2 separate regions of the Homo sapiens genome follow, and region 2 is linked to region 1. A link means that fine-mapping ties the variant in region 1 to the expression of a gene that starts in the linked region. Tissue or cell type: caudate. Region 1 holds a variant in brackets; the other region holds the start of a gene. All regions are shown on one strand. Distances are between the middles of the regions.

What was found. PIP is the estimated chance that this variant, and not a neighbour inherited with it, causes the effect.
Region 2: PRSS23 starts here. The variant in region 1 is fine-mapped to the expression of PRSS23 in caudate (GTEx, PIP above 0.99).

Annotation. Positions count from the first base shown.
Region 1 is chr11:86,515,709-86,518,391 of GRCh38, reverse strand. The region is part of intron 4 of ME3 (malic enzyme 3); the gene reads left to right. Among named protein-coding and RNA genes, the nearest start is that of CCDC81, 140 kb to the right of the region's middle. The variant C/G (reference allele first, on the strand shown) is at 1,446.
Region 2 is chr11:86,799,332-86,802,014 of GRCh38, reverse strand. It overlaps PRSS23 (serine protease 23), which reads right to left and starts at 1,473. Exons shown (of 2, transcript NM_007173.6): 1 at 1,364-1,473.

The DNA.
Region 1 (2,683 bases):
ACTTTGTTAAGTATGTTTATTCAAGTCGATCGCAGCCTCCATTTCCAAGTCTCTCATGATAAGGGCATTTTCTCACCTGGTATGGAGAGGTTACCCCTCCCAGAGGAATCTTTATCATAGGCTACATGCAGGAAAAGACAGGTCAGCTCTCCCTTTCTGAAACTACAATTTCTCCAAGTGTTTTCAACTCTAAATAATCAATTAACGAGATGGCATATTTGAGGATGGGACAGCCTTCACAACTTCAAATTTCAACATATTTTCCTGAGGGATATAACTCAAATGGCTGGAAATTTTTCTCACTCAGAAAAGGTTTGGGTGTTTTTCCACTCTCTACCATAAGTAACCAATATCAGCTACCGCTTTTGGAGAATTTACCACATGCCAAGCCCTAGGTCATGTTCCTGATATATATTCTTTTATTTAATCTTCATAGAAATACTTTGAAGTAAACATTATTATATGCCTAGTTTACAACTGTCAAAATAAAGGCCCAGCTCTGCCTCCTTCCAGCACCCATATTCTGAACAACTTACCATACCTAACACATACATCACTTATAGAGTACCTGCCATGTGCCTGGTGCTACGCTAGGCCCTGGGAACAAATGTCATCCTGCCCTCAGGGAACATGAGTCTAGTGGAAGGAGATATGCATCAGAGATATAATTTCCTAAATATCAATTACTACCTCCCAGTGTCATAGCATCATTTCCCACAAGGAATTCTTTTCCTTTGCTCTCATTGCCAGAGGTCTGTTGAAAGAACAGTGGATGCTGAGATGAAAAGCAGTGCAAAGTCCCTCAAAAAGGGGGTTCCCTCACTTCTACTTTAATCAGAGCTCCAACATGTCGACAGGTTGGAGCTCTGATTAAATTGGAACTGAGCATCTCTGGACATCTTTATTGAACAAACAAAATGTTTCTTAGCCATATTATGCTGAGGAACAAACAACCCTAAAATCTCAATGCCTAAAGCACAGTTTATTCTGTGCTCTGCACCATGTGTCTCTGACCCCCACATCTAGGGACTGTGCTCTATGTCACCCTCACACTGGATGCAGGCTAATGAAGTAGTCTTATCTGGAACTCTACAGGTTATGTGGCAAAAAGAAAAAGAGAAGATGGTAAATCACACTGACTCTGAAACACTCCCACCCAGAGGTGCCATGTTGCATTTTATTGGCCAAAGCAGGTCACCGGGCTGTGCTTTATTTCAACAAATCATGGAAGGGCAGCCTGCCTTGTGCTTGCAAGAGAGAACAGAATATATTTACAGAACAGAATGAATTGCTTCCACGAAGGACAGAAAGAAGTTTTAACCCTGTTCCAGGATGAACAGCCCATAACAAATATGCCTTTCAGACCAAATGAAATAAGTATTTGAAGGAATAGATCAGGTACTCCGTGCAATTTTTGTTAAATGACCATTCCCTTCCCTCTCTGC[C/G]TACTTAACCCAAAGCTCCATGCAGCAGAAGCCATGCCCCTTCTCTGGCCACTCATTTGGTCAGTGGGCCCTGATGACCAAGCACTAGCTAAGAGAGAACCTGTGGTCTTTTTTGGAAATGAAAGTAGGAAAGTCCAAATGTGAAAGCCATGAATCAGGGGACAGTGATGTATGTTCCTGAGCAATTCCCTGTAGCTTCCCTTTAAACAGCAACCTCCTGAGTACACATACAATATAATTTTAGATATAGATATTAGGCCAGGCACGGTGGCTCATGCCTGTAATCCCAGCACTTTGGGAGGCTGAGGTGGGTGGATCACTTGAGGTCAGGAGTTCAAGACCAGCCTGGCCAACATATAGTGAAATCCCATCTCTACTAAAAATACAAAAAATTAGCTGGGCATAGTGGCACATGCCTGTAGTCCCAGCTACTTGGGGAGCTGAGGCAGGAGAATCACTTGAATCTGGGAGGCAGAGGTTGCAGTGAGCAGAGATCATGCCACTGTACTCCAGCCTGGGTGACAGAGTGAGACTCCATCTCTCAAAACATATATATATATATACACACACACACAAAGAGAGAGAGAGAGAGAGATTTTATTTACTCACAACTTTTCAGGAATAAACTGTATTTTATGTAAAGCAAGACATCTATTTGTTTAAACCCTGGATTCCATAGGTAGGTAGCATGCCATATCCACCATATATTTTTCCATCCCTCAAGTTCCAAAATTGATTCCCTGAAGTAAACAGGAAAAACTTGGGAGAAGTAATCAGTAGCTAAAATTATTTTTGTTTTTGTCCTGTTCCAGTTAATGGCTATTAAAAGCAAGATTTCCATGACTGCTTCTATTCCAGATGCCCATGTTCTCAGCTCTAGGAGTAGCAAAAGAAGTTGCATTCTAATGACTCAGAGGAGTCATTAGCCTTGATGAGTGTTCAGATTGCAGTAACTCACTGCAGGATGTTTAGTGCCTTGGGATCCCCGGGCAGCCTATAATTTGCTCAAAAGCTGGAAATGTTTCTGCACCTCTGCAGAGCCTGGCCTGCGGCTTCCTGTGTTTTCCCACCTTCCTGCCTCCCATTGTGCCTCAGAGCAGGATAATACCACTTTAAACATGTCACATTAGCTGTCAAAGGGGTTTTGACTCATTCTCAAGGAGAGAAGATTGAAACAGACCCAGCTGTGGAATACAGAGAGCTCCTTGGCACCTAAATGACTACCCCAATCATCCGTA
Region 2 (2,683 bases), 280 kb before region 1:
ATGTTAACCATCCAGCTGAATAAGTCGTCAGTGTTACAAAAATGAGATCCATATTAGGCACCTTGGAAAAAGGCTTCCTTCCCAGTTCAGGCACAGGAAAGGACAAGTTACCGCTTGACTTTATTTAACTAGGAAAACTGCAAGTGAAACAACCTTTTCGTACGCAGATGGGGTGCAAACACTTTCACAAATAAACATAGTGGCTTCTGGGGGCATTTTCTAAGTTCCTTCTCCCCACTTCACCTCCAATCCACTCCTGACAGACTTCATGGTAGGCACGGTTATAAACCTGTCACAAATACTCGCATGCACAAGTAGGATCTTGAAACAACATGCAATAAATATCCTGATACTACTTTGACATAGGGCTTTTGACCACAGCTGACCTCATCTATAAATTCAATTCTTTCTCACATGACCATGTGATGAGGATTCTGGCACTGGCCTACCTGTTCCTAAGGAGTGCACAGGGAGCCCTCAAATTTAGTTTCAGGAGCTGAGAGAAGCAAGCCCTATTCCAATACCTACACTGAGCTGCTTAATTCTTACTGGTGTCACCCAGTGGGCAGTAAAACAAACAGGATTTTTATCAGCTGCTTTCTCCTGAGGTGCTGGAAAGCAAACCTAATTTGTATTCTGGAGAGGAGTGGTGGTGTTCCTTCATCTGAACAAGTCTTCTCCCGCTCCTTTTAAAACTTTAAAACTTTTATTTAAAAGTTAACTCGTGATGAATGCCTACAGGCAGAAGAACTATTTGCTTACAACAACTGTTGTTAGTTCAGACTGTAGTGTCTAGGGTTAGCACCCCCGGAACGCACACGGACAACCACTCCGGAGAAAAGATTCTATTTCCCAGCCTGTATTTGCTGCACTTTTGCACTTCTCTTGCTTGCTTAGGTGTGTTCACAATCACATGCCCAGGGTTAAAACTTAATATTCAGAACTTGATGGAATCCGGTATATGCAAAACTCAAGGAAAAGAAGTAGTGGTGGTGGTGTGTTGGGGGGGTGCATGGGGGTGTAGCCATCGCCCCCGCCGAAGGACAGCTTGCCGAGAGCCGGCTCTCTCTGCTTCCCAACCAACATCCTGCACCCAAGACAGCAGGATCTTCTTTCCCCATCCGTTTCATGGGTGACACTGCATGAATCCAAATGACCTGCAGCCCCCGCCGTCTCCCCAGAGCTCCTTCAGGCCCCCAGCCCGTGTCCTGGAACCCCGAGGACTGCCCTGGCGAAGTCCTGCGGTGCCTCCGGCAGCCCGCAGTTACCCTACCCCGCGCATACCCGGCCCTTTGTCCCGCTCCTCCCGGCGCCTCGCCTCTCCCGCGCCCGGGCGGATGCCCCAGTCGGTGCCCGCACTCACCCGCGCCGAGCAGCCCGCCCGGGCCGCGGCTCGCTGCGCCGCTCAGACAGGTGTGGGCGCCGGGAGAGAGCGCGCGGCTCCCATGCCTGCCCCGCCGCACAGCCGAGTGCGAGCAAGCTGGCGAGCAGCGCAGGCAGCTGGCGGGTCCGCCCCCCGCGCCACCCGAGGCCCGCCCGCCCCGCCTCCGGCCTCGGGGAAGCCGCGCGGACGCCGCCCGCCCCACTGCACATAAACCGTGCCCCCCTCCCCTCGCCGCTCGCCTGCGGCCGGAGCAGGGTGGAGCAGCCCAGAGGGCCTGAGGCCGAGCGTCCCTGCGCAGGTGGGCCCCGGTGGCGCGGCAGCAGTCGCCAGTCCGGGCCTCTCGGCGCCAGGCAGCACCGGCTCTGGCGGGCTCTCCTGCCCGGGACCCGCGCGCCGTCACCCTTTGAACACCGCGCATCCCCGGGTCTGGCGCGCGGCCTCCTGAGCGAGACTACGGCCTTCGCTGCTGGGAGCACGCTGCCAGCTCGCAAAAAGACCAGGTCCCCTACAAAAGGCGACCCCTCCCCCAACAGCCTAGAACTAGGGACGCGGGCCACACCTGGTGTATGGGGAGCCCTGGGCAAATTTGAAGAATTGGTTCAGAACCTGTGTGCGCCCCACCCCCACGTACACTTTTAGCGCCTTAAGGTGCTGACCGAACTCCTAGTTTCTCCGGTGCCTCCAAAGAACAGAAACCTGTATTCCCATGGCAGGGCCACCAATGCTTTGCATTTCCTTACAGCACTCAGTGCTGTGCGTGGGGCCCAAAGCACCGGGGGTGCTTGGCAGCTTCTGAGCGGCGGTGGCTGGGGAGCCCACTGGCCTCAGTTCTTCATCGGGGCACCAGCTGGTGGAGCCACCTCCTTGTCCAGTGGGCCTACTTCCCTGAATCACTCCAAGCGGTCGTTATCTTGGTGGTGGTGGTTGGGGGCCAGGGTAGGGGGGTGTGCGGGGAGTCCTCTCCTAACCAGGCTGGAGACCTTGCCATTTAAGGTCCTAGTGTTAGAGCCTTCCTATTTAGTATAGATTACTGTGTATTGAGCGTTTTCGGTCAAGAGCTTTACATATAGGCCATTGTGGTGAAGAAGGTGCAGAGATTACACTAATTTTTATAAGGAACAGGAGGTTTGGAGAGGTTTTATGACTTGCCCAAAATCACACAGCTACTGAATGGTAGGACAAGATTTTGCACTGAGCCATGCTTTCTATCAAGCTACTTAGCTTTCCTTTCTCCTATCAAAGTCTACTCTCAGAAAGGGAAGGTCTAAAGTGCTATTTCACACCAAGGTGTTACTGATA